3 separate regions of the Homo sapiens genome follow, and all the other regions are linked to region 1. Evidence: fine-mapped expression QTL. A gene starts in region 1. Each other region holds a variant in brackets. All regions are shown on one strand. Distances are between the middles of the regions. Region 1 holds the start of YIPF1 (Yip1 domain family member 1). Region 2 overlaps GLIS1 (GLIS family zinc finger 1). Region 3 overlaps YIPF1 (Yip1 domain family member 1).

What was found. PIP is the estimated chance that this variant, and not a neighbour inherited with it, causes the effect.
Region 2: its variant is fine-mapped to the expression of YIPF1 in lymphoblastoid cells (GTEx, PIP 0.97).
Region 3: its variant is fine-mapped to the expression of YIPF1 in whole blood (INTERVAL, PIP above 0.99).

What each region holds. Positions count from the first base shown.
Region 1 is chr1:53,882,150-53,892,998 of GRCh38, reverse strand. YIPF1 (Yip1 domain family member 1) reads left to right here and starts at 3,202. Exons shown (of 11, transcript NM_018982.5): 1 at 3,202-3,286; 2 at 3,536-3,755; 3 at 4,013-4,092; 4 at 9,723-9,886. The coding sequence starts at 4,062. RefSeq lists an enhancer at 2,969-3,263 and a silencer at 4,149-4,443.
Region 2 is chr1:53,638,059-53,648,933 of GRCh38, reverse strand. All of the region lies in intron 2 of GLIS1 (GLIS family zinc finger 1), which reads left to right. Among named protein-coding and RNA genes, the nearest start is that of GLIS1, 96 kb to the left of the region's middle. The variant T/A (reference allele first, on the strand shown) is at 6,131.
Region 3 is chr1:53,854,809-53,862,808 of GRCh38, reverse strand. YIPF1 (Yip1 domain family member 1) reads left to right here. Exons shown (of 11, transcript NM_018982.5): 10 at 2,656-2,753. The coding sequence ends at 2,745. Among named protein-coding and RNA genes, the nearest start is that of NDC1, 21 kb to the right of the region's middle. The variant TG/G (reference allele first, on the strand shown) is at 4,828.

The DNA of each region.
Region 1 (10,849 bases):
TGGAGAAACTGAAAGAAGAATCATAGAGCTCAGAGTTGGGAAGTGTTTTAAAATACACCCAAGACCTTTTTTTTTTTAAATAATTGAGACGGGGTTTCCTTCCTCTGTCACCAGGCTGGAGGGCAGTGGTGTGATCATAGCTCACTGCAGCCTCAAACTCCTGGCTCAAGCCATCCTCTCACCTCAGCCAGAGTAGTTAGGACTACAGGAGTGCCACCCAAACCCGGCAAATTTTGTGACTGTTATAGCTTCTCCTTATGTTGCCCAGGCTGGTCTTGAACTCTTGACCTCAAACAATCCTCCTTCCTTGATCTCTCAAAATGCTGGGATTATGGGAATGAGCCACCATGCCCAGCCCCCAACTTCTTAAAGTAATCAGGGCTGATTTTCCCCACCATGTGTCACTCTTTATTTATTTATTTTTGAGACAGAGCCTCGCTCTGTTGTCCAGGCTGGAGTGTAGTGGCACAATCTCGGCTCACTGCAACCTCCGCCTCCCAGGTTCAAGCAATTCTCCTGCCTCAGCCTCCCAAGTAGCTGGGATTACAGGCGTGTGCCACCATGCCCAGCTAATTTTTGTGTTTTCAGTAGAGATGGGTTTCGCCATGTTGGCCAGGTTGGTCTCGAATTCCTGACCTCAGGTGATCCGCCCACCTTGGCCTCCGAAAGTGCTGGGATTACAGGCGTGAGACACCGCGCCCAGCCGGCACTCTTTTCTTTACCTGCTGGTGCAGTGGTATGAGAAGCCAAAAATGCCTAAGTGGTAGTTACAGCTTCCAATTCAGTGGAACTGTAACTGGAATGGAAGTGTTCTCTCTCCGCCTTCCCTGCTTCCCTGGGACCAGGATCTCCAACCAAGCAGAACTTAAACTTGTGACGCAGGAGGCACACATTCTATGTGTGTAGGTTTCACTGAAAGTGATAGTAAGAAGTGCTACCCCTTGGTTTGCAAATCTATAGGTATTTAGAACAAAGTACCATTATAAATAATTGATAAACCATTGGTTTAGTACATGTACTACATGCCGGAGGACAATGCCCCAGTCTCCTGAGTATTTTCCCCAACCTGGAGCCCTAACTGTGCCTTTAACAAGCCATTCCACCATCCTATTAGGCCACCTACTATTGGATGACTGAGTCACATGGTAAGACCAGTGGGTAAGACCCATGGTTATGTGTCACTGTTGCATGTTCTTTACAATTAAATTGGTCCCTTAGTCCAAAGCAATGTTGTGCAGGTAATCATTGCAGGATCCGTAAGCAAGAGGACTTTGCTTTCCTTTAACAAGGGGGAAAGGACTACTTCTGCCACAGCCACCTTTCCCTTGAAAGATTCAAGGGAAACTGGAAACGAGGGATGGTCAAGTCTCAGGCTTTCCTACCCAAATATCCTCATCCCAGTTCTCAGGTTCCCATTCATTTTCTGACAATGCCCCAGCTTTGATGGAGGAGACCTACAGAGGCTGTGCATTCAGTCTTCGTTGAAACTTTGCCACCCTTACAATTAGATCTTGGGCCTGATTTTCAGTCCAGTCTTTCTCAAGGCTATAGAAGAATAAGAATCTTCAAAGCTGCCATAGAGGCTCTCTAGCTTTCACAAAGTGCCTCAAGTTGACAGTTGGCTGTTCTAAGTCTGTCATTTTATTTTCAAGGTTTCCAATGGAGTTAAGAACACCCAGTCCATTCCATAGTCCTTATAATTACCATTGTCCTCTTAATGTTCCTGTGCCACAGCCACTAGATAACTCAGCACCTTATCTTCTACCTGCACGTTATCCCAATCAACTGCAGACAGACACCTTAGTAATTGTGATGCCATTCTATTCTAAGTGTTATCACACCACCACCACCCCCCTCCTTCTCTCTCCCCTTAACACCAGCAATATATTTGTTGTTGCCATGTGACTGGTGCGCAGTTCAGTTAGAAAATGCCAACCTAAGGTTTTATTTTCTGGGGCCACTTTTGGTACCAACATGCCTTCATATTGCTTCCTCATATGAGTAGTTTATTGGCAAGTATGAATCCAAGCACCAGGAGTGAAGTACAGGGCTTGTATATCAGGGAAGGAAGGAGACCCATTGCGAAGATGCATTGTCAAATGCGTCACTTCCAAAGGCATTTGGTTGCTTAATCCTGCTAGGTAGTTTGAAAGCTATATGAAAGGGCGCCTGAGGGGGAAAAACAGGAAAAGCATATATTCATCAAGTGTTGACCCCATTGGTCAGAGATTTGCCTCATGAGACATTAACAACTCTCTACCCCTACACTTCTGGGATGCACCTGTCTGGGTGCTGATTGGCTCCAGCAAGGTCCCATGGCCCCATCGCATGAAGAAACAAGCCTCGAAGCAGAAAGTGAGAAGCCTGAGGCATAGACTGGAGGCAAGCTCACTCAGGTTATATCTGCTGACGCTGGAATAAGATGAGTGGCGGTGAAATAAGCAGCAGGTGAGGCCAAGATGATCTGAAATGGGACATAAGAGGTGGCTGATATACTAGCACAGCTGAATTCATGAACTGAGATTCATTCCTGGTACATACTCAACCAAAAGTGCCCTGCACATGCTCTAAGCCTCAGCTTTCTCTTTGTAAAATGAGGATAATCACCCCAAGATAGCAGGATTGTTCTGAGAATTAGAGATCCTGCATGTACAAAGCCTGATCATGATCATCTTGGGGAAAAAAATACACTATATATGGCTATTATTAGATGTAAAGTCTTTCCAAGCGCTCACTTACTGGGGGTGCTCATACGAACAGACATCGCGCTTTCGATCACTCATTCAGAATGTAATTGACTCATCATGTACTTTCTCACCAGTGAAATTTTTGTGGCCAAAAGAAACTGAGGGACTGGTGACGCGGGTGACTTAATTTTTTCTTTCACAATCGTCTTTCATCACCCGATTTTATATTTCCTTAGGAAAAGAGGTATAAACACACAGTAAGAAAACCCTAAACTCGAGAATTTTCTACGTTCCCTGGAGCAAGGCCAGCCCAAGTAGTCACACTCAGCGACCCCACCACTCCGCCCTCGCCTGTCTCTTTAAGAACTCGAGGCTCAGCCTCGGGAGAAGGGCGGGCGGGAGCGGGCTCTGCGCGCCGCAGCACGCAGGTTTCTCTGGGAGCTGCTGTCTCTTTAAGGAGGCGGGGCTCTTCCCGGAGGAGGCGGAGAGGTTCCGCCCCCCGGATCTCCGGCTTCCGGCAACTGGGCTGGACCGAAACCGGCGCGGAGCAACTGAGGCCCGAGCCTTCTCGGGACCCGGGGGACGCCTAACCCCGCGAGGTGAGGCTGCCGAGTTTGCGGGACCTGTACGAGGCTAAGGGGGTTCAGGATCTCCTGCCCGCCCGGGCCGCCGCGGCCCAGCTCCTCTCCCTGAAACACTGCCTCTGCTTCGCGGTGTCCCGGGCTGCAGGGTCGCCGACACCCCATTGCCTACTAATTGCCTGACTCCGCTCTAGGCTCCTTACACGCACTCCCATTTAATGACCCCCGCACTGTGTGACTAGGTATCGTTATGCACCCATTTTACAGATGAGGAAACTGAGGCCGCGAGGAGCGCGCATACAGCAGAGAAGCAGCAGAATCGGGAATCAAACCCAGCTCTGTCTGACCCCAGAGCCTGTGCCTTTAACCACTGGCTAGGCTGAACTGCCTTTGTTCTTCACTGTCCCCATCACCTCTTTCAAACCTCAGCCTCTCCTTCCTCATCGTTACATCTCTAGGCTGCACCTGCTCTCTAAACATTCACACAGTGAGTTGAGATTCATTCCTGGTACATACACAACCAAATAAGGTTGAATTGGAACCTTTGGATCCCCGGGGTTAGTTTCTTTGTTACAGTTTTAATATTTAATAATACCTGATGCTTAGTGGTTATCTTTATATAAACCTATTAAACCCCACTGAAAAGGGAGGCAAGGGAAAGTGATACCATTTCTAATACATAAGAGTTGTTTGCAGATACTTTATACTGTCATCCTATTATGTTTACCTATTTTTTTCTTTTAGAACCCTGCAAATTTTCTTCCTCATAATTGGGAGAAGACTCACTGGCCGAATGGCAGCAGTAGATGACTTGCAATTTGAAGGTATACCAGTTGGGTGCCCACCTTTATATTTATGATCACTGTTGCTACAGTCACAGCAAGTATTTTCATTCCTATACTGCCTCACACATTGAAGGATATTATTTCAAACATCTTGGTGGCTGTTGGCCACATCCAGGTGTTTCCTGTTTGTCCACACCAGCTGTTTTTGTTTTTGTTTTTTTTGCCAGATAACCCTTCAGATTGGTAACGAGTATCATAAATTTAGTACAGTGATTACAGAAAATGCTTACACAGTTCCTGCTTTAGTTCAGAAAACATTTATTGAGCACTTACTTTGTGCTTAGAACCGTACAAGATACTGGAGACAAAAAGATGAAGAAGTTTATCCACTGGTGGAGTAGATAAAAATGTAAAAAGATCATTAGGATGAAATGTGATCAGATCATTCCCTCATTGAATCAGTAAATATCTCCTGGTTGTGACCAGGAACCGGGCAATTGTTCTAGTTATCAGGGATAGAAGAGTGAACAAAATAGTTTCCTTGTGAAGCTCTCAGTCTAGTGAGGGGGACATGTATTTATTAAATGATCATTTAAATATATACCTACAAACTATGAAAGTGCTGGAGGAAAAGTTCAAGGAGATATTAGGACTCATAACCCAGAGCCTGACTTAGGCTAGGGATTGATGAACACTTGTTTGTTTGTTTGTTTGTTTCTTTTGATGGAGTCTCACTCTGTTGCCCAGGCTGGAGTGCCTTGGCTCGATCTTGGCTTGCTGCAACCTCTGCCTCCCGGGTTCAGACGATTCTCCTGCCTCAGCCTTCTGAGTAGCTGGAACTACAGGTGCCCGTCACCACACCCGACTAATTTTTGTATTTTTAGTAGAGACGGGGCTTCACCATATTGGCCAGGCTGGTCTCGAACTTCTGACCTTGTGATCCACCCATCTTGGCCTTCCAAAGTGCTGGGATTACAGGCATGAACCACCAGGCCTGGCCCACTTACTTGTTTTATTAACACCTTACCTAACATTTACTATATGTCAGGCACTGTTCTAAATCCTGTACAGATAATCCTTATGTCAACTTTATGAAATAGTTACTTTATTCCCCTGTTTTATTAATGAGGAGACTGAGGCACAGAAAAATAATTTGCCTAATGGTCACGCAGTTAGTAAGGGATAAAATCAGGATTTGAACCCATCCAGTCTGGTATCACAGCTTATGCTGTCTCTGTTATCTAAGGAAGAGATACACTGTTTAAAGATAAATCTATTTCATTTGCAAGTACTAGAAATCCACCTCAATTTGCAAATACTGTCAACCTCGTCTTCAAAATTCATCTAGCATCTGACCACCTCCACCACTACTCTCACCATGCTCAAGGTCACTGTCACCTTTTTTCTGAATTATAGCCTTTACCTTCCTTCTGGTCTTTCTGCTTCCTCCCTTATCCCTCTACAGTCTGTACTTTGCAGCCAGAGTAGTCCTTCTAAAACTCAAGCAGATCATGTCATTCTTTCAGAACCTTCCAGTAGCTCCCATCTCACTAGAAGAAAAAGCCAGGCTGGGCGCAGTGGCTCACACCTGTAATCCCAGCACTTTGGGAGGCCGAGGAGGGCAGATCACCTGAGGTCAGGAGTTCGAGACCAGTCTGGCCAACATGGTGAAACCCTGTCTCCACTAAAAATACAAAAATTAGCTGGGCATGGTGGTGCACGCCTGTAATCCCAGCTACTCTGGAGGCTGAGGCAGGAGAATTGCTCAAACCCAGAGGTTGCAGTGAACCGAGATCGCACCACTGTGCTCCAGCCTGGGCGACAGAGCGAGACTCCATCTCAAACATAAACAAACAAACACAAAAACGAAAAAGCCAGAGCCCTTACTGTGGCTTAGGAGGCCCCTATATGATGCAGCCTCCAACCCTCTGATTTCATCTGCTGCTCTCGTCCTTTCTGTCTCTGCCCAAGCTGCATGGGCTGTCACGGTTCTTCCTATGCACCAAGTACATTCACAGCTTGGGATGTTTGTGCCATCTTTCTGTGTGGGACATTCTCCCTTCAGATAGCCTTATGGCTTGCTTCTTTGCTCTGTTCAAATCTCTCCTCATTAGAGAGACCCTCCTCAGCCATCCTATCTAGGAGTGCAGTGCAAGAAAGTTTAAAGACAGTGGCCCTCGCAAAAGCCCCTGTGGAGTGAGGAAGTTTAATTTTTTTCCTAAAGGATTGGGAGAACACTTGTGTTCCAGATCACGGATGGTGGGGAAAGCTGACACAAGGTGAGGCTTAGGAGGAGGCAGGTGACAAATCACCCAGGGCTTTATCAACTGTGTTAAGGACTTGGGTCTTTAGAAAAGCACACAGGATGCTGGGGGTGGGGTGGCGGGGGGTGGGTCATGAAAGGCTTCTCCGGGGAGGAACGGTAGTATTGGATGAAAAAGTAGAGGTCAGAAGCCTTCAGGTGAAAGGCATTGTTTCAGGAAAGGAGCAGAGGCTGAAACTAGCTTAGGATATGCCAGGATGTAAAAGCAGAGAATGTTGGTGGCAGAAATAAGACACATACCAGTTTTATGCTCAAGGAGCTGAGATGGACAAGAATAACCAGCACAGAGCAGACTGTGTGAAGAGTCGTCATGTTAGGGGTACACGCAGCCCACACTCCAGTCAAACTATGCCGTCACTGTCCCTCCATCACGGGCACACTTTCCATCTTCTGGGTCTTGCTCATCCCCTTCCCTTTGCATGAGATGCCATCCCCAGCACCTCTGGCCATCCTTCTCATATGGTATCTTCTCCAAGAAACCTTTCCTGATCCCAATAACTAGAGGAGTTATCGCCCTCCTTGGGGCCTTTTTGACCTTTGTGCTTCTAAAGTGGTACTGTCTGTTCCTCCTTCTGGCATTCCTTCCCCCTGGTAAACTACTGCTTTTTAAAAATTTTTTAATTTTCATGGGTATGTAGTAGGTATATATACTTACAGGGTACACTCATATATTTTGATACAGGCATGTAATGTGTAGTAATTGCATCAGGGTAAACAGGGTGTCCATCACTTCAAGCATTTATCCTTTGTATTACAAACAATCCAATTATACTCTTTTTCTCTCTTTTTTTTTTTTTTTTTTTGAGACCGAGTCTCGCTCTGTCACCCAGGCTGGAGTGCAGTGACATGATCTCAGATCATTGCATCCTTCACCTCCCATTTCAAGCGATTCTTGTGCCTCACCCTCCTGAGTAGCTGGGATTACACGTGTCCACCAACATGCCTAGCTAATTTTTATGTTTTTAGTAGAGATGGGTTTTTACCATGTTGGCCAGCCTGGTCTCGAACTCCTGACCTCAAGTGATCTGCTCGCCTCAGCCTCCCAAAGTGCTGGGATTACAGGCGTGAGCCACTGCATCCAGCCCAGTTATACTTTACTTTTCTTTCTTTTTTTGTGAGACAGAGTCTCACTCTGTTGCCAGGCTGGAGTGCAGTGGTGCGATCTCGGCTCACTGCAACCTCTGCCTCCTGGGTTCAAGCGATTCTCCTGCCTCAGCGTCCCAAGTAGCTGGGACCACCAGTTTGTGTGTGCCACCACGCCCAGCTTCAGTTATACTTTTCTAGTTATTTTAACTACTGCTTTTTAACTGTGAGAGTTAAGTATATCTTCCTTGGTCTAATTCCCTCCAGCAAAGTTGTGACTATCTTTTTAAATGTCATTGCCCTGTACAATCAATAAGAGGTACCTGTAATGATAGTTATTATTTCATCATCCTCAAAATCTCTTTGTGGGGTAGGTATTATCTATGTTTTATAATTGAAGAAACAGAGACTCAGAGCCATGGAGTAATTTGCTCAAGGTCATGGAGCTACTGAGTATTAAGAGTCTTACCTTGAACAAAGGACCATCTCACTCCAGAACCTCATGTTGCTTAAACTACCCAAACATTGCCAATTGAGGCTTCAGTAATTGTTGCATATTAGCTACCTGATTAATTTCAGTCACTTTAGTGTTCTCCATAAAACTGCTCATATAGTTGAGAGGCAATAAGAGTGAACTCAGCTGTCCTACTGCTAGGACTGGTGCCCTGCTTGTAGTGTTATAATGGTGCCCTGCTGGCACTCTTCCTTTGGCCTTCGAAGGTTCAGAGCTGCCCTGAATTTTATTCAAGAGCAGCTGAAATAAAGTATGTTAGGATATTCGGAGACAGGAAGTCTCAATCACTGCTGGTGGACACAAGTAGGTAAGGTTCTTTTGGAAAGCAGTTTGGTAACATGGTTCAGGATCCTTGAAAATGGTTTGCACCCTGTTGACCTAGTGATCACACTGATAGGTGTTCATCTTAAGGCTGCCCCCCAAAAAGCTTTTTCTACACAGACACTCCTTTTGTATTTGTAAGAAAACCTTCATTGATGGAATATTATGCAGTCACATAAGTGATCATTTTAAGAGACTGTTATATGAAAAATCATTTTTGTGTATAATCCCCAATTTTACATAATCTTGACAAAGCAGGATGCAAAATTAATTATAGTATCATGTTCTAGATCAGTACTTGGCACATTGTGGGCATGCAGTAAATATTTGTTGAATAAATGAATGATCATCAGTGGCATGAATCTCACTATGTGAAGAAAAGGAAATATACTAAAATGTTAATAGTGTTTGCCTTTATGTGGTAGAACTAAGAGTGTTTTTTTGTTTTTTGGGTTTTTTTTTTTTTTTTTGAGACAAAGTCTTACTCTCTTGCCCAGGCTGGAGTACAGTGGTATGATCACGGCTCACTGCAGCCTCTACCTCTGAGGCTCGAGCAGTCCTCTTGCCTTGGCCTCCCAAAGTGCTGGAATTATAGACATGAGCCACCATGCCTGGCCTAAGAGTGGTTTTTATCCTGTGATTTCTACTTTCTTTTTTCCTTTTTTTTTGAGACATAGTCTCACTCTGTCACACAGGCTGGAGTGCAGTGGTGTGATCTCGGCTCACTGCAACCTTTGCCTCCTGGGTTCAAGTGATTCTCCTGTCTCAGCCTCCAGCATAACTGGGATTACAAGGCATGTGCCACTACACCCGGCTAATTTTTGTATTTTTAGTAGAGACAGCATTTCACCATGTTGGCCAGGCTGGTCGAACTCCTGACCTCAGGTGATCCGCCTGCCTTGGCCTCCCAAAGTGCTGGGATTACAGGCGTGAGTCACTGTGCGCAGCTGATCCCACTTTCATTTTTGTTCCCATATTTTCTGTAGTGATTATGTAGACTTACTGGAAAAAATAACCTTCATTAAAATTTTTTGGACTTGAATCAAAGAAGTAAAGTTTAGGACTTAGATTATATTCCTTGTTCTCCCAAAATTATTTAAAATAAATGTTATTCTCCCCATGATACAGATGAAAACACTGAGGTTTAGAGGGGTTTAGTTACTTACTCAGGCTTGTGTATTTAGTAAGTGGCTAGCTGAGCCAGAACCAAAATCTAGGTCTGACTCCAAATTCTGTTGTCTTCATAGTCATTTTTCTATATCAGATTGATCTCCTGATGAGATTTTTTGTTTTTCAAAGCTTTTGCCCTTTGTATCAGGTAGGGTCTATAGCAAAGCTGAGGTTGTGACAGCTTGTCTTTAAATTCAAAGTATAGCATTTCTAGTGTGGGTAAGGTTTCTGAGGCCCGTGTGCTCTAATTGATTTCAGAATTTGGCAATGCAGCCACTTCTCTGACAGCAAACCCAGATGCCACCACAGTAAACATTGAGGATCCTGGTGAAACCCCAAAACATCAGCCAGGATCCCCAAGAGGCTCAGGAAGAGAAGAAGATGATGAGTTACTGGGAAATGATGACTCTGACAAAACTGAGGTTTGAACTTGTCTTTGAGATATTTTTTAAACAATTTTTAAAGCTTGTTTATGTGCTTATTCACTGTCTACTGTGTGCCAGGTACAGTGTCAGGCAATGACAGCTCAGAGGTAAATGACACATGGCCTCTTCCTTGGTGGGGGAAACAGGCAAACAGACCATTACTTTCCGTAAGTACACTTGTGGAGGGGAACACTGGGGTAGTGAGCAGAGATCCTAGCTTATGGAATGTGGGACTCCCATGCTCAATATTTTCTAATATTAGAGTAGGAAAGAACCTTCATGGCCCTCTGTTTTAGCCTCTCTCCTGAGATATTGATGCTGTCCTTGCTATGTAGGAAAGATAACACTTGGAGCCAGGCGTGGTGGCTCACGCATATAATCCCAGCATTTTGGGAGGCTGAGGCGGGCAGATCACTTGAGCCCAGGAGTTCGAGACCAGCCTGGGCAACATGGTGAAACTCCACCTCTACAAAAAGTACAAAATATTAGCCGAGTATGGTGGTGGACACCTGTAGCCCCAGCTACTCGGGAAACTAAGGTGGGAGGATTGCTTGAGCTTGGGGAGTAGAGGTTGCAGTGAGCTGAGATTGCACCACTACACTCCAGCCTCGGCAACAGAGTGAGACCCTGTCTCCAGAAGAAAGAAAAAAAAAAAAAGGAAAGATTGAAAACACTTGCTTGAGTACCTCCAGGAATGGGCTGTTTACCACCATGTAAGGCAGTTGCTGCCACTGTCGACTTTAATTGTGAAAATGTTTTTCTTTAATGTTTTTTCTTCGACTTTTATTTTAACTTCAGGGGTCATGTGCAGGAGGTACAGGTTTGTTACATAGGTAAACATGTGCCACAGTGGTTTGCTGCACAGATCACCCCATCACCTAGGTATTAAGCCCAGCATCCATTAGCTCTTCTTCCTGATGCTCCCCCTCCCATGTGTCCATGTGTTCTCACCATTCAGCT
Region 2 (10,875 bases), 240 kb after region 1:
GATGAATATCACAAGGTGAATGTAACTGTGGACCCAGTATTTACGTAATTACTATTCCCGGAAGAGCCCCACTCATGGCCTTCCCCATCTCTCCTCCCTGCCTCCTTCTTCAAGGTAACCACAGGCCTGACTTCTGGTACCACAGATTTGTTTTGCTTGTTTTTGAACTCGATATGGCTGGGATCTTACAGTACATACTCTCTCGTGTCCGATTTTTTTCACTCAACATTATGTTTCTGAAATCTGTTCATGCTGTGCAGCTATGGCTTATTCATTTTCACTGATGTATGGTATTACAGTTTACTCATCTTTTCCACTGCTGTCGAGCATTTGTGTTGTTTCCAGTTTTTGACCATATTTACATTATGATGAATATATGTATACATGTCTTAGGATGTGCATATACGTGTACTTCTATTGGGTATATATGTAGGAATTAAACTGCTGAGCTATAGGATGTGACCATGTTCATTTTTAGTATATAATGCTAAACAGCTTTCCAAAGTGGCTGCACCATTTTAGCACTCCCGCTGGCAGAGTAGCAGAGTTCCCATTGCTCCCCATCTAACATACGATGTTGCTTGTCTTTTAAATTTTAGCCATTCTGGTGGGTGTGTGTTGGTGTCTTAGTGTGGTTTGAATTTACATTTTTCTGGCGATTAATGATGTTGAGCATCATTTCATATATTTTTTGACCATTTGAATATTCTCTTTTGTAAAGTGCCTATTCAAGTCTTTTTTTTAATTTTTATTTTTTTTTGAGACAGGGTTTCACTTTGTTGCTCAGGCTGGAATGCAGTGGCGCAATCACGGCTCACTGCAGCCTCCACCTCCTAGGCTCAAGCGATCCTCCCATCTCAGCCTCTTGAGTAGCTGGGACCACAGGTGCACATACCACCATGCCTGGCTAATTTTTTGTTTTTTTGTAGCAATGGAGTTTCATCATGTTGACCAGATTGGTCTTGAACTCCTGGGCTCAAGTGATCCTCCTGCCTCATCCTCCCAAAATGCTGGGATTACAGGCATGTGCCACTGTGTCTGGGGAAGTTTTTTTTAATTGAGTTGTTTGCCTTTTTTCGTGTAGAAGATCTTCATGTATTCTAGATCCAAGCCCTTTGTTAGTTAGATGTGGCTTGCCCTTTTTCTCTCTTAATGATGTCTTTTGATGAGTAGAAACTCTCCATTTCAAAATAATCTAGTTTATTCATCTTTACTTTTATGGTTAGTGCTTCTGAGTCCTGTTTAAGAAATCTTTGTGAATTTATCTCAAATTGTGAAAATAGTCTCCTATACAATTTTCTTTTACAAGCTTATTTTTGAAGCTTGGCTGTTTTACATTTAGTATTTAGATGTATAGTCCATCTAAATACGAGGAGGCTCTCTGGATTTGGTTTTTATGTTTGGTGTGCAGAAGGTGTCAAGTTTCTTTTTTCCGACATTGTATAGAAATCCGATTGAGCCAGCAGCTTCTATTGACCACGTTGTCCTTCCCCCACTTTTCTGAAGGGCCACCTTTACCATAAATCAATTAAATAAATGGCTCTATTTCTGGATTCTCTGTTCTGTTCCATTAGCCTATTTGTTTATCTTTGTGCCAGTTTCACATTAATTACTGTAGCTTTATAATAAGTCTTGATATCTACCTTATTCTTCAGGATCACCCTGGCTATTCTTGGCTGTTTGAATTTTAATATAAATTTTAGAACCAGCTTGGTAATTTCCACAGACAAAAAGAACCTGCTGGGATTTTGATTTGGATTGCACTGAATCTCTAGATAAATTTGGGAAGAAAAATTTGCAACTTCCAGCTTCTAGATAAATTTGGAATTTCTAAATTCACATTTGGAATCTTCTGACCCATGAATATGGCTTATCTCTCAATTCATTTAGGTCTTCCTTAATTTATCTCAATTTTCTTTTCCTTCATCCCTCCCTTCCTTCCTTTCCTTCCTTTCCTTCCTTTCCTTCCTTTCCTTCCCTTCCCTTCCCTTTCCTTCCTTCTTTCCTTCCTTCCTTCCTTCCCTTCCTTCCTTTCCTTCCTTCCCTTCCCTTCTCCTTCCTTCCTTCCTTCTTTCCTTCCCCTCTCTTTCTCTCTCTCTCTCTTTCCTTTCTTCTTTCTTTTTTGAGACAGAGTCTTGCTCTGTTGCCCAGGCTGGAATGCAGTGGTGTGATCTCTACTCACTGCAACCTCTGCCTACCAGGTTCAAACAGTCCTCCTCCCTTAGCCTCCCAAGTAGCTGGGACCACAGATGTGCGCCACCACACCTGGCTAAGTTTTGTATTTTTAGTCAAGACGGGGTTTTACCATGTTGGCCAGGCTGGTCTCAAACTCCTGACCTCAACTGATCCACCCACCTTAGCCTCCCAAAGCGCTGGAATTACAGGTGTGAGCCACCATGTCCAGCCTGTCTAGCAATTTTCTTTGTTGAGGTCTTGTATATCTTGTGTTAGATTTATCCGTATGTATTTGATGTTATTCTATGTTACCATAAATGATATCTAAAAAATTCCCTTTACTGTTTATTGTAGATAAGTATATAATTGAGTTTTGAGTGTTCCTGTTATATCTACTGACCTTGTCAAATTAACTTTTTAATGGTCTAGTTTGTTTTTAGATTCTTTTTGATTTCTGATTATCACTTGTGAATAATAAGTTTTATTTATTCCTTTCAATTCTTATATATTTTATTTCTTTCATCCCTGCTTACCCACTAGAGGTAATCTTATGTTTGTCATTCTCTTGCTTTAAAATAATTTTTAATCAAATAAATAGTTTTTATCACGTGTCTATGTGTGCCTAAACAATATATTCCATTTTAGTGGATTTTGAACTTTATTCGGTATACTGAGATTTGCTTTTTAAATTCAGCATTATGTTGCTGGATGTTGCAGGTGTCTCTAGTTCATTCATTTTCACTTCTTTGTAATATTCATCATATGAATGAATATGGCCCCTGCCCCCCTTGTTCACTGCTGCATTCCTCAGGACCTAGTGCAGGGTCAGGCATGGCATGGCAGGTCAATAAGGCTTTGATTGAATAAGAACTGCAAGGAGTGAGGTAGACACCACGAAAGCCCAGCTCTACTTCCTGCAAGCAAGGAGTCAGGTAGACTCTTGAAAATCCAGCTCTGCTGCCCCCTAAATTCTATGAACTTGGGAAAGTTACTTAGCTTCTCTGAGCACCAGTGTTTCCTCTTGAGTACAATGGAGATGAAAACACTTATTACTTGTGGTTACCAGGAGATGGCTTACCATGAAACAACTTAGCACAGATGGCATAGCCCTTCTTCCCATGTTGGCCTGTACCCCAAGGGTTGTGGTTCATAGGGGGTCTTGCTGTTGGGCAGGCCATCCCCTCGGCCATCCCCTATCACCCTGGCCTGCCATCCTGCTTGCTGAGTATGGATAAGAGAGTAAGCGGGAGGAGTCATTCCCCATTCAGTAAGCATTTGCTAGGCCCCTGCTGGGTGTCACAACTGTTGTAGACTTCGGGGACTGATCAGTGACTACAATAGACCAACATCTTCTTCCAGAAGCCTGTCTTCTAGTGGGTAGAGACAGATGGAAACACAGGAAATATACAGTGTGTCATTTGGTAACAAGTGAAACAGAAACAAATGAGCAGGGAAGGGAGACAGGAAGTGTTGGAGAGGGCTATTTCGTGTTTGGAATAGCACGACCAGGAAAGGCCCCAATGTTCATGCAATGTGTGAATCAAGATCCGAAATATGGAAGGACCCATGCAGATGTCTGGGGGGGAGAAGCATTCTAGGCAGAGCGCACACATCAATTGCAAAGTCCCCGAGGCCAGACTGTGCTTGGCATGAGTGCGGAATAGCCAGGAGGCCGGTGTGGCTGGCGTGCGTTTGTTTAGTTATTTCACAGACATTTCCTATGCACATGCCAAGCCCTGTTCTTAGGCACTGAGGAGAGATAATAGTGATCAATTCAGATTAAGTGCTGCCCTCATGGACCTTAGATTTTTGTGGAGGAGATAAACCGTAAACCAACAAATAAGCGAGACAGTCTGCTTTCAGCACAGCAGCCTGCGTGATCCTTTTATACCAGTGGAATCTGTCGCTCCTCTGCAAATAATACTTGCTGTTGTGGAGTGAGCCCCTGTGGCACTCAGGATGCAATTCTGGATCCTCTCTGTGGCCTGTGGGATGATGCCGGACCCCGGGGCCCCCCAAATGCACCGTTTAATTCTTTCCTTCTAATTTCCTCCTCTCCAGCCCAGCACACTGCCTCCTCCGGGCCCTGGTCCCATCTGTTCCCTCTGCTGGGCATACCCTTCACCACTCTGTGGTGCCCACCTTCAGCACCCTGCCCTACCCCAGCACCCCCATCCCCTTACTCTACTCAGTTGTTTTTGAAGAACTCTTCCCATTCTAATAGGCCGTATGTTTGACCTATTGATCATGTTTGTTATTTATGAGTCACCTCCTCTTCTGTACGGAAGCTCCAGGAGGGCAGGGATTTTTGTCTGTTTTGTTCACTGTCTTCTCCCAAACATCTATGACAGCCAGGATTTAATAGGTTTAATGAATTTGTTTGTGAATAACAATAATATTTGTTTAATGAAGAAAAATTCATCAATATTATGTCAGGTTGTATGATAAATAGTGATTTATCATGGCAGAGTGAGAGGCTGGAGGTGGACAGGATGGGGTACAGTTTTAGCTGGGCCGTCAGAGGCTCTCTGGGGCAGAGCCAAGTGGAGGGAGGGTGACCCGGCAGCCTAGCTGCAGTGGGAGCTGGTGATTGGGATGGTGGTAGGACAGAGAGAAAGAGGCAAATCAGCTGACCCTAAATGGTGTCTTGTAGAGACTTCTTCCAGAATATGAGAGTTGACCCTAACATGGAGCCTTGCTCCCCTCCCCCACTTTGCCCCTTCCTTTCAAAACAACTTGGCCTGGAACATTCTTTATCAGGGAAAGAACTCCAGGCTTGGCATTAGGAGGCCAGGGCTGGGCTCCCAGCTCACTGGATTACAGAGAGAGTAAGCCCCTGGCTCCGAGCCTCATCTTCCTCTTCTATCGTGTGGGGATTACACTCTGTACCCCCTAGCTTACTGGGGGACGTTTGGACAACCAGTTTGGAAGGGCCTCATTTCCTCCTGTCAGCCCCCGATGGCTGAAGTGCTAGGAGACCCCGGGGGTGCTGCTCCACAGGCTTCTCAGTTAACCCCTGGTGCTCATCGTAGCCCTGGGGTAGGAGGAGGCCTCACCCTCCCGCCGTTCGCTCATGTTCGTGGTGTGGAAAGTGAGGCAGAGAGAGCTTCCATAACTTGCCCAAGTCACATAGCTAGTAAGCCACAGCTTGAAGCTATAGTTGCCGTGTTATGCTGTGACCTTGGTTACTAGCACTGAGTCTGCCTCCTTGCTCCCTCCCCATGGTCATTGTACAGGTGGGGAGACTGAGGCCCAGATGGACACATAGCTTGTGAAGGCCACACTGTCTGTGCATGATGGAGTCTGAACTAGAACCAGGTCTCTAGGCTCTCAGCCCGTGGCTCACTCCAGGTCAAGTTCAGGTGACTCCACCCGCAGGGTTACCTGGAGGACAAGAGCATCTGGGAACACTACTGCCCCCAACCAAAGTCATAATGGGCCTCTTCCTGCTGCTCTGAAGGTTTGTTCCCAGGGCTTGCTGGGGCAACGTTAAAACTTTACAGAGCTGCTGGAGAGAAGCGGCCCAAGTGTAAATCAGGTTTATGGCCTGGATAATAAAGTGTCTGCTCCAATGGATACTTGATTCCTTGTGCCTCTTGATTCCTTCCATATGAAGCCCTCCACTTTTGGGTCACAACAGACCTTGGTGGTTTCGTTTGTTCGGGAACTAGGAACTGGGTCTTGTTAGTCCGAGAAGACGGGACTCAGAGGACTCAGACCACAGTCTGCAGGCCTCAGACTGTCCCAGCCCTGTGGTGGTTTGACAGCGATAGAACACGTTTCCTCAGCTCACAATTCCTGAGTTGTTTTGAGCTCACAATTCCTGAATTGCCTACTTGGTGCCAGGCCTGCACTGGGCACTGGGGACAGAGAGCTTCCAGATAAGGGTGGGACACAGACATGTGAACTAAGTTACAGTGCAGGGAACTGGGGAGGCCGGGCAGCCTGGTGGAGA[T/A]CAGGGAGACTTCCCGGAGGAGGTGACGTTGAATCTGATACAAGACGGGTGAGTGGAGTTAAAACTGCAGTGGGAAGGGTGTTGCAGGCAGAGGGAATGGCAGACACAAAGACACAAGAAAGGAGAGAGCTTAGCTCATGTGAGGCTGGAAGGCAAGTCCTACAGCACAGAGGAAGAAGTGCTTTACTGTAGGAGATACCCAGAAGGCTTCCTGGAGGAGGTAGCACTTGACTTGGGTGTTACAGGATAGACAGGCGTTCATTAGCACCAACAGAACAAACCTTCTGTAAAGTCTTGAGAATACTGACTGGCATGGCGGTGTGGATACTATGAGCCATTCCAGCAGCGTATTGTGGCAGGGCCCCGAGGTGGAAGGCCTTATCGTTGCGTGGCAACCTGAAACTCTGACAGCACTGCAGAGTAGTGTGAAATAGGTGCAGGGAACCCAGCCTCTCCTGCCTGTAATGTCCAGAACAATCTCTCCAGTGCTCGCCTTCCATCAAAGCAAGACAGCTCCCCTGATCCCAGATTGCCAAGCTGCTGATGTTTATAATTACAGTGTCCCACCATCTGAATCTTTGTTCATCAGACTCCATTAGCCTGATTTATTTGATGGGCACCAGTCCTCGTAATGGGGAACAGAAACAGGGCAGTGTGTTGCCTTGGGATTCATCAGGGTAGGTGTGGCCTGGCCCCACAAGCTCTGGGCCTGCTGGACCACTGAGGTGTCCTGGCCTGGCCAGCTGGCCCCAGGAGCAGCCTCCAGGCCCCACACTTGGCAGTGCCTGGGAGTGGAGTGGGGTCAGGGAGCAGACACTCTTGTCAGGGAGAGCTTCGGGGTCAGCCCAGGATGGGAGGCACAGAGCAGCGGCCCTGGGATGGGACAGCCCTCAGCTTGAGACCTGGGGCTGGAGATTAAATGATGTGCAAGCTGTGGAGGTTCCCAGCACAGAGCACCCAGTGATCTTGAACTCCCTTGCTTTTGCAGCACAGATGGACAGATGGACCGTTCCTTCCCAAGAAGCTTGAGGAGAGGTGTCGGGTGTCAGGAAGGCGTGTTAAGAAACCACCCTCCACCACCAAGATGGCCCCTTTTTGGTGCGCCCTCGTCAGTACCACTCACCTACTTGTCCTTGTTTATTCAAGGCTCCATCATCCACAAAGTGCCCTTAGGCCCCCAATCTCTGTGTGACAACCCCACACCCACGGGCCAGAGTTTTTCACCCACATTTTTCAGGTGATGAGCCCAAGGGCCAGAGAGGGCAAGTGAGTTCTTCAAGGTCACACAGTCAGCAAGTGATATAGCCAGAACTTGCACCTGAGGCTCTTCTCAGAGTGCTCAGGTTCCTCTGGCCCCACCTGTTTTCCTCCTCCCCAGACTGCTGGAGCTCCTACGGCAGGCACTGGGATGTCACTGTAGGAAAGCTGTTCCTTCCCAGGGGAGCTTGCTGTCTGTTGGGAATGTCATCCACTGTCATTTAATCTCTAGGACAACCCTATGAGGCAGGTGTTGTTATCCCTATTTTACAGATGAGGAAACAGCCTCAGAAAGAGTAAGGACTTGCCCAAGGTCCAGCCCAGGTACTCAGCTGGAGGATGAGCACCTTTTGTATGCAAACCCTGGACTGGGCACTCTGATGGTTCCAAGAAGAGTCAACACCGCAGACCCTGCCCCGTGGTCCCCCAAGATATTCAGGGACTCTCTCTATGGAGGTATTCATTGCTGCCAGGCAATAGTATGGGCCCTTTTCTACATTTCTGCCCCAGGGTCAGGTTTAAACCATCCATCATCAGCTGGGCCTGTCTCCCTGTGCTTTTGAAGTCCCCGGTTCTGTTCCCTCCAGAGGCCTAAGAGTGTGCCTTCAGCTCTTCCTTTCCCCCACGTCTTCTTAATCTCGCAGTCCTGCTGTGCATCTCAGCCAAGCCCAGACTCCGGGAGCTGCCTCAGTACAAGCATGAGCGTGTGTGTGTGTGTGCACATGCATGAAAGGGGCATGGGGTAGGGGAGGGAGTGGCAGAGTGGCTTAATGTAGTATCCCAGACTACTGCCTGGGTTTTAAATCCTGGCTTTACCTCTTTGATGACTTTGGGCACGTTACTTACTTTCCCCTTCTGTATGATGGGCACAGTGACAGCGCTTGTCACAGGGCTCTGGGGAGGAGTGGAGGACAGTCCAAGTGAAGTGCTCAGAGAGGGGCCAGCACATAGCAGGTGCTCAGTGGATGGCTGCTGCTGTCAGACTCTAAACAGCCACCCTACAGGCAGGAGATCCAGGCTCCACAGGAGAGCGGGGTGCTGGGGGCCTGAGGATCCCAACTGTCCAGCCCCCAGCTGTCAGATGAAAAACTGAGACCCAGGGAGGGACAGGCCAGGATTTTCACCAACAACGGTGTAGAGTCACTTGCCTGCTTTTAAACCTGGCTCCCAGCCTTTTTATATTCCTCCCATTTGGTTACAACCAAAAGGAGTCAAACCACTAATTTGCTGTGGATGCAGCCCTGGGTATTTTTCTTTCTTACTGGGCATTCTTCACAAAGGGGCTTTGTGGAGCCTCCGGAAGGCAAGGTAGTGTTTGCCCTGCCTGACCCTGGCTGCCTGGGGAGCTAGCTGGCTCAGTGATGCCAGGCATGGTACCCCACCTCTGACTTTGGGTTGTCCCATCCTGCTGCACAGGGCACCTGCACTCCTCTGACTGCTTTGTGACCTAGGGCTAGTATGTCCCTTCTCTGAGCAATCATAATAATCATAATAGTGACAACTTAATGAATAAAATGTGCTTGGCACTATGGAAGCACCTCATATATATTTAAATCTCACCATGCTCGTGTTTGTTAAGTGTAGTATCCCTGTTTCTGTGGAAGTATAAACTGAGGCTCAGTGACGTATCAGACTTGGGATTTGAACCCAGGACTATTAGCAGCAAAGCCACAGCTTTTAAACAACATCCACATTTGCCTACTTTCCTCAGTGGCAAAGCAGAACCTCGGGGCAGCTGTGAGGAGTATAGTCCTGGGGGAGAAGGGTTTGCATACATTGAAGCCCACAGCAGTGCTCCTGGTCCTTGAGACTGGCTTCCCAAGCCTGGAGGTTTATAAATATTCACTGAGTAAACCTGAGTATGCTGTCGGCCCAGGATAGCGGGCTGGAAAAAAAAAGCCCCACCCTGTCTCCGAGGTAAGACAGGAAAGAAAATATTATCGTCACCCTCTGGTGGATCCAGCTCTAGGCCTCCGTCAAATTGTGAATCACCTGAGAGTCTGGTTTCGCTGCAACCACAGAAAAGGGCCAGGGTTCCAACCAAAACAGCCTGTGCGCATCTGCTTGGAATTTACTGATTGATTTATGGGGTGCCTCCTGCCAGCCCCGAGAGGGACAGGCGTTCTCAGAGTGGCGGCTCAGTCCAGCCTCCCAGACGGCTGCTGCCACCCTGCGGGCCAATGGGAGATGGGAAGGAGAGCAGCCTGCAGGGAGGGGACACCTCCGAACGAGGGTGGGACTGGTGGAGCCCACTGGCACTTTCTGGATATGCCATCGCCCTGCCAGCCCGCAGCTCCCTTAGTGTAATGCTGGAGAGTGTGGCCAGTGTCATGTGGGTACTCTGCATCGGCTGGTGTGGCTTCATCTCTAGAATGACTCTGTGGGTGTAGGTATTATTGACTCATTTTACAGATGAGGAAACTGAGGCTCAGTCAGAATAAGGACTGGCTCAAAGTCACACAGTTAACCAGTGGCAGATCCTAGTTTCAATCCTTTGATTCAGGGGCCGGTGCTGTCAACCACTCTGAGAAACTGGAAGACCTTGGCGTCATCTGGTCCAAATTGTTCCTTCTGCCCTCCACTCCCTGCCCCAGTTTGTGCATGAGGAAGTCCAGACCACAAGAGGGACTGTGATTGTCTGAAACCTTCAGGTCACCCAGGGCCAACCCAGAGCCTGGCAGTCCCCCTTCTGCTATGACTTGCCTCCTGGTCAGGGCCCGCCTCGTCATGTGCTCCCCCGGCCACTCCCTCCAGGGTTTACCCTCGTTTTCATGTCCACTGGCTGCCCCTGCCCCACTCCTTGTTCTGGGTGTGGGGGGTTCTAGGGTTGGAAGGGGCTTATTGACAGGGAGGTAGGCTGGCCAGGTCCTCACGGGATGTGCAGTTGGGACATGGACACTGGACTCTCTGCCCCCAGACGCCAGGGTCTTTGCCATTGCTCCATGGGGCCTCAGAGGCCCTGCTGGGGTCATGAGGCTTTGGGATTGGGTGGCAGTGGGGTTGGGGGGCAGTGGGGAACAAGGGAGGACAGACTGGGCTCAGGACTGGCTTGGTCACAGCTAGATTCTCACTCTCTGTAGTGGCTCCTGGTTAACCCTGTGTGGGTCTCTGCGTCATCTTTCAGCTGGGGCCTGAACTGGCCTGGGGGAGGCCTGCCCCTTGGGGCCAGTGTCTGTTTTGCTCAGCTTGGTTTCCTGCAGGCAACACCCGTGTGGTTGCTGTGATGGGAACGGACCACGTTGTCTTTGGGTTATGGTATCCAGCACCATGCGGGCCTGTGGTTATCATCTGTCACAATGCAGAGAAACAAGGAACCCTCCCTTTCCCCGAGGTGCCTTCTCTGCTTCCCCTCCCACATATATTGCATCTCTCAGGCCAGGACTTCCCTGACCCTTACACCGTGTGGCCTCTGTGCTTCTCCCCGTGGCAGTCCCCACCACATGTGTGGCTCCAGACCACCAGAGTGATCCCTCTAAACCCAGATGGGA
Region 3 (8,000 bases), 29 kb after region 1:
TTACGTTGCAAGGATTGAATGATATATGCAGCATGGAAAATATGACGAGTCATGTAAATGGAAGACATTATTATTAGGGCAGAGAGAGGAACTGGCAGGGGAGTTATTTGAGCTGAGGGGCACCGGCTGAACCAGACAGCTTGGCTTCCTCACTCTCCCCTGGGGAACACGGATTGGTGTTTTTGCCTTAGTGCAGTGAAGCATATAACAGCCCCACACTTGCCAGGGACCCCTCGGTGATTGCACATGTAAATGATGTCTAAGTTATACAAGAACACACTGGCAGGGATGACTAAGGAAGCACCTAGAGGCTGCACCCTTGGTGTATGTTTGGAGATGTACAAGCCTAAGTTTGAGGTGGTTACTGCTGGCTTTTACAGGGAGCTGTGCCCTACCCCTACTCACAGAGAACCTGCTGATTCAGCTTTGAGGTCTCCACGGTGCCTAGATCCGGACCGGACATAGACTAGGTGCCAAATTGCAGGAAGTGTTGGAGAATTAGAAGAGCACAGACTATGGAGATGGACTCGACTGGATTGAAATCCTAGCTCAGACACATAGTTGTCTAGCCTTGGGAAAATCTCCATTTCTTTGAGCCTCAGCTTTCTCATCTTTAAAAGGGATAAAATGGCCTGTTACAGCACTTTTGAGCAGATTAATGATCAAGTATATGTCTGGTGCACAGTAGGCATTCCCCAAATGATGGCTGTGATTGTTATTAAGCATTTTTGGAATTAATGAATCATAGAATTCAAGATTGTTCAAGGAATGGCCCTAAGAGATCATCTTTTCTTTTTGAGTCAGTTTCCCTCTGTCACCCAGGCTGCAGTGCAGCAGTGTGATCTAGGCTCACTGCAACCTCTGCCTCCTGGGCTGAAGCAATTCTTGTCCCTCAGCCTCCTGAGTAGCTGGGATGACAGGCATGTGCCACCACGCCTGGCTAATTTTTGTATTTTTAGTAGAGGTGGGGTTTCACCATGTTTGCCGGGCTGGTCTTGAACTCCTGGCCTCAAATGATCCACCTGCCTTGGCCTCCCAAAGTGCTGAGATTACAGGTGTGAGCCACCACACCCAGCTGAGATCTTATTTACTTTTCTTCCCTCCCTCCCTCCCTCCCTCTCTCTCTCCCTTCCTTCCTTCCTTCCCCCCTCCCTTCCTTCCTTCCTTCCCTGCCTGCCTTCTCTCTCTCCTTCTCACTCTCTTTCCTTCTCTCTCCACCACACCCAATCTCTCTCTCTCTCTTGAGTCACCACACCAGCCCCAAGATCATCTTTTCTAATCCTTTAATTTTATAGATCAGAAAGTTGAGGCCAAAGCAGGTGGAGCGACTTGTCCAAAGTCACAGTGTGAGCTAATAGCAGAGCCAGGTGTAGAAGCTGGGCCTCTTTGCTCATTCTGTCTTACAAGGGCACCCTGCAGTAGCCTGGAAGAAAGGCTTTGTTCCTGCATCCTGGGGGCTTGTGGCACAGTGTACCTGAGGGAGAACTGGAGGAGCCCAGCACTAGCACTGTGGCCCCATCCCCCACTTAAGTTAGGGACTCTTCTTTCCTTGCCCCAGAAAACAGCTGCTGGAAGGGTTCCTAAGGAGGAAGCCTCTTAAAAGTAATAGAGTTGCTTTGGGAATGGGGCAAACTAGAGGGAGTCTGCAGAGAAAGACATCATCTGGAAACTTTTCAAAAAGAGTTAACATGGAATAGCAACAGGTAGGGGAGAGCTCCAACATGTTGTGTTGGTGCCCCCTTCTGGCTGATAGAGAGCAGAGCTGGTGAAAAATGGTTGTTGGCTTTCCAACAGTGTACCTTCCTAAGGGCACTGACCCCAAGGGGGTATCATGAACATTCAGTGAGCCTTGATGTAGTAACAGATTCACCTTTCCTTTGAACAACCAGTATTCAAGGGTAGTGAGATTGGTATTTTCCTGGGCTCAAGTTTGGCTTCGCTCAAGTTAGGCTTCTCTAGACCTTATGTCTTCCCTCCTTTACCTCCTTCTGACTTTTGACCGTTAAATTGTAGATGGTGAGTGGAAGCACTTAGCAAACCTTTCATTTCCCAGCTGAAGAATTTTTAGGGAAAGCATGCCTAGCACTCTCTTTTCAAGGTATTTGCAGAAAGCCAACTAACTAGTTTAGCAGCAAGCTAATGTAGTTCAGTTCATTAGGTATTGATTGGTTACATACTGTGCCAGGCCCTGTGCAGGGGTGCTGGTGACACAAAGATGAAGAAGTCTTTGCCCTGGAGGAAAGACTGTATAATGTTGTGATTAAGAGCTTGTGCTTTGGAGTCAGACCGACCTAGCTTTGAGTTCTGGCTTCACCACTCATTAGCCATGTTCACCTGATCAAATGACAGTCTCTCTGAGCCTTAGTTTCTTTATCTGTCTAATGAGGATAATCCTAACAACCTCATAGGGTTATTAAGAGTAAGTCATGTAATATAGTAAGTGCTCAGTACATGATAGCTAAATTTTTTAAAGTATGCACAATTTAGTGAGACAAACGTAAACAGAGATGGTTGTAGTTTAGTGTGATGGCAAATATGGTAGGAAGAACTTAGGGGCTGTGAGAGTCCAAAAGTACTGTTAGCATGGAGTCTAAAAAAACACTTACCCGGACCACTGTCTTTTTAACTCCCTCCTGGGTCTTTTTTTCCCCACAGGCATACTTTTTTGATGCACCAGAGATGGACCATCTCCCAACAACTACAGCTACTCCAAACCAAACAGTTGCTGCAGCCAAGTCCAGCTAATGAGGAAAGTAAGAGATTCTATTTTTATTTTGCTGTGTGGTGCCATAAAACATGGGCAGGTGTATCAATTCTGTTAGTGTTAGCTTTAAGCACAGAGGGCCAGACCCTTTCATCCTTCTGCACAGTTCAGCGTGGGTTTGTGCATGTGCATGTCTGTGTTTCTGTGTTCCTCTTATTGAAGTCCTCTGTTTTGAAATCCACATGATACTGGCTTTATAGAGTTGGATAACATGAGCTCTTAGGTTCTTCTGTAAGAGGAGCTCCTGCCTTTGGTCCCAGTAGAGGGGACTCTCTTCTCCCTGAACCCTTTCCTAGAACACAATATGGGTTTGTTCCATTTTATAACAATCCTGGTGGTTTTTTCTTTTTTCTTTTTCTTACTTTCTTTTTTTCTTTTTGAGACAGAGTTTCGCTCTTGTTGCCCAAGCTGGAGTGCAATGGCATGATCTCAGCTCAGTGCAGCCTCCATCTCCTGGGTTCAAGCGATTCTCCTGCCTCAGCCTCCTGAGTAGCTGGGATTACAGGTGGGTGCCACTACTGCCTGGCTAATTTTTGTATTTTTATTAGAGATGGGGTTTCACCATGCTGGCCAGGCTGGTCTTGAACTCCTGACCTCAGGTGATCCACCTGCCTCGGCCACCCAAAGTGCTGGGATTACAGGCGTGAGCCACCGTGCCCGGCCATTTATCTGGTCATATAATTTATCTGGTGATCCCATTACACTTTGTATTAAGTATCACTCTCATGGTGCTTGAAACACTAATGGCTGACTAATCATGTGTCCATCTGCCTATTCATTAATTTGTTCGGCTATTTATTCATTCATTTGTCCACTGTATACTACAATGTCTCCCCAGTTAGGCTCAGCTCGACAAGAACAAGGCATGGTGTTACTCTATATCTTCATTGCCTACCACATAACCTAGTATACATAGGGCACTCAGTAAATATTTGTGGCATGAATAAATGAAGCCACACTCTGCACATGATCTTGCTGCAGGACAAGAACCTTTACTTTGCTGTGTAATCACAGACTGTCCTTTCTGTCCAAGCTGCTCTCTCCCAGAGGCATGAGATGTGTGCAAAAACCAGGGGCTTAGAATTAAATAAAATTACAATTAAATCCCAGGTCAGCTATGGTGGCTCACACCTGTAATCCCAGCACTCTGGGAGGCCAAGGCAGGCAGATCACTTGAGCTCAAGAGTTTGAGACCAACCTGGGCAATGCGGCAAAACCCCGTTTCTACAAACAATACAAAAAATTAGCTTGGCATGGTGGCATGCTCCTGTAGTCCCAACTAGTTGGGAGGCTGGGGTTGGAGGATCACTTGAGCCTGGGAGATGGAGGTTAAAGTGAGCTGTGATTGTGCCACTGCATTCTAGCCTGGATGATAGAGAGAGAACCTGTCTCTAATAATAATAATGATAAATCCCAGCCCTACCATGTACTAGCAATGTGCCTTGGGTAAGGGGCTTACTCTCTTTGAGCTTCAGCTAACTTGTCTTTACAATAAGAATGACACAAACTATATAAGATTGTAGTGAAGGTTGGAGATTATTTTTATAAAAGCTCCTGGCACATAGTTAAGGTGCTCAGCAATAAAATCAAAGCTACTGCCACTCTCAGAGTGCGTCAGTAGTTTATGTTTGGTGGCTCCCACTGACTTTACCTTGATCATTTTTTCCTTTTTGTAAAACAAATGGGGATTTTCCCTCTTAGTTGAGGAATCCAGGTTGTAGGCCCTGTAGGTTGACTAGATATGACTGGTCAAATGCTTTCCAGTTCCTTAATGGTAAGACAGTCACCCTGGCCAGTAGAATGACTGGGAACTATTGTAAAATGTCATAGTCTACCACTTTCGCCTCTTCCTCTCTTCTCATGGGTATGCGATGTTAGAATCAAAGAAGATCAGAGCCCTTGGAGACATTAAATAGCATGGGCTTCCCTCCTCATTTTACAATAAGGAAGCTGAGACCGAGAGAGGACAGTGCCTTACCCAAGGCCACCCCAGAGTTCTGGGGCAAACTAACATGTGTCTATCACATTCCATTTGACAAAACACTTTTTTTTTTTTTTTTTTT[TG/G]AGGTGGAGTCTCACTCTGTCGCCCAGGCTGGAGTGCAGTGGCGCAATCTTGGCCCACTGCAACCTCTGCCTCCCGGGTTCAAGAGATTCTCCTGCCTCAGCCTCCCAAGTAGCTGAGATTACAGGTGCCCGTCACCACACCTGGCTAATGTTTTGTATTTTTAATAGAGATAGGGTTTCACTATGTTGGCCAGGCTGGTCTCGAACTCCTGACCTTGTGAGCCACCCACCTTGGCCTCCCACAGTGCTGGGATTATAGGTGTGAGCCATCGCGCCCGGCCTGACAAAACATTTCCTAGTTTATTCTCTCATTGGCCACTCTTACTGGCCCTCTTGACCACATTGTATGTATAGATGAGAAGGCTGGGCTGAGTAAATCTGGGCTGACTAAGATCACCTACCTCTTAGAGGCAGAGCTGGGACTCATATCTAAGTCTTGGGAAGCCAATTTTTGAGGTTTTTCACTTTCCCATTTTTTAGACAAATGTTCTTTTTACCACTAAAACGTGCAGGTTCTCACTGCTAGCCTTTGGCTGTTTGATGGAGCCTTCCTCTGCGGGTCTAGAGGTGTTTAGTAGCAGTCTCCACACTCCTTTGATTGCATGTCTTATCAGCTGAGAGTTTGCGTGCTGTATTAATTATCTATTGCTGCCCAGTGGTATTACCACAATACACATTCTCACAGTTTCTGTGGGGCAGGACTGTGGGGATAGCTTAGCTTGCTCCTCTACTTCAGATTCTCTCTCAAGGCTGCAGTCAAAACATTGGCCAGGGCTGGTGTCTCACCTGAAGTCTAGACTGGGAAAAGATCTGCCTCCCAACTCACAAGGTTGTTGGCAGGATTCAATTCCTGTGGCTTCGTAGAATGAGGGCCTTCTTGCTGACGGTCATTTGGAGACCACCCTCAGTTGCTTGCCACGTGGGCCTCTCTGTATGATCACTCACTTCATCAAAGCCATAAAGGGAGAGAGAGGCAATCGAGTCTGATAGTGAGATGGAAGTTGCTGTCCTATATAATGTAAACATAGGAGAGATGGTCATCACCTTTACCATCTTCTATTGACTAGAAGCAAGTCACAGGTCTTGCCTACCTTCTAGGGGAGGCAATTACACAAGGGCATGAATGCCTGGAGACAGGCAGGGATCACTGGAGGCCATTTTAGATTCTCAGTCACAAGCACAAACTTGTGATACGTATATATTTGAAGTATTTGCATATACTGTTGTCAATCCATATAGGAACTATTAAAGCTTTAAATGCCATAGCCAAGTTGTCAGTTTAGCATTATGGGGCCAAGAAGGGAGGGACTCAGTTGGAGTTGGCCTGGAGGGAAGCTTCAGAGAGGGGCTCTTGTTTGAACTGGGTCATAAAGGTTGAGCACAGTCAGTTAGCTGTTCTGGAAAAAGTAGTCTGCTTCCCATGGCTTTTGGGAAGATGAAGACCTAGGCTGTACAGGGGAACCATGATAAGACGATGTGGACTCACATCACTGAGAACGAGACAATTCGAGCCCAGCTGGAGAGGGACAGAGGTAGAGAACACAATGGCAACAGTTTCCTGGGTCTCTCTTTTGGCCCAAAGTACCTGACATCGCCATGTTGAGGGTCTCTCTCAACCTGCCCCTGAGCTAGGACTTAAGTTATTTCATTTCATTTTGGTTGTAAAGGCCTTCAGAGAGTCAGAGCAGCATCTGAGAAGAGCCTGCCCCTCAGGGCCCTTGAAGACTTAGCAGACTGGTGTACACAGATTTGACGCCTCTGCGCTTTGCTCAGATCTATGAACTTGGCTGTTAGAGCCTCCATTTGGGTGTCAAGTCTCCAAATGAGGTAGTGATGAACAGCTTCTTTGCAGCCTCCCTGGCAGAAGCATCAATTGCTTTGCTGATAGAGAGGCTGTCCAGAGCCCTGAATGCTGCTGATTTACGAGCTGGCTGTGCCTTCTACTGTCATCTCTGGACTCCCAGCTTTCACTGAAAAATAAAGGCTTCTAATCTCACCAGTAACCTACCTTCCCCATGTAAATCTGTGTATTGGAAAACTTAGCCTAGAGCGCATTCCCAGGAGAGCATTGGAAGGCTTAGCTTAGAACACATTCCAGGGAGAACCCCTTCTCTCCCTGGAACCTCAGGATCATAGGGGAGCTTCCAGTTACAGTCATGCATTGCTTAATGATGGGATGCATTCTGAGACATGCGTCATTAGGCAGTTTCATCATTGTGCCAATATCATAGAATATACTTAAACAAACCTAGATGGTATAGCTTACAACACACTTATGTGGGATAGCCTATTGCTCCTAGGCTACAAACCTGTGTGGCATGTTGCTATACTGAATACAGCAGGCAGATGTAACCCAATCGTAAATATTTGTGTACCTAAACATAGAAAAGGTACAGTAAAAATATGGTGTGATCTCATGGGACCACCATTGTATACGTGGTCTGTTGTCAACTGAAACATCATTATGCAGTGTGGGACTGTACTTGTAATCAGCATGCTACCCCTATGTAAGTTATTGAAATAATATAAAGAATATCTGGCTTCCATCCTTCCTTCTTCATTAACTTTTCACATGAGGGCAGTGCTATGTCTTCTCTGAGCCAAGACCCTGGTAGAGCCTGGAAACTGTACCTGGGAAGCCCTGCTTTGGCTTGAGGGCTTGAGACCGCATCCAGATTGGGGTGAGCTTTCCAGGGGCAGTGACAGGTGGGGCTGTCCGGAGGAGGGCCATCAGCAGATAATCATATCGCAGTGTGATCAGGGCTTTAATTAATGATGCAGAGAGGGCTTCTGGAGAGTCCTTTGTCATTAAATCCTCCTGATTGGATACACAGGGTTTGTATGCAGTTATCCTGTCACTCGCTCACATTGTCAAGAGTGTTCATTTCACAAGCCTTGTCTACTTGGCAATTTCCTGTTTATTTTTCAGGACTCACTTGAGATACCCTCTCCTTGCTGAAGTTTTTCTTGACTTCTCCAGGTAGTATTACTTATTTTCTTTTCTGTGCTCTTCTACAGCTCTCGTATGTTCTTCTATTATGGCAGTTTGCTTATTCACTGTAACTTCATAGACTGAGAGTTCCTTGAGGGCAGAGCTTTATTTACCAATATAGCTCCCTAGCACCCAGCAGACACTTGGAGAAAGCTTCATTTGAACAAGTTGTTAGGCCAA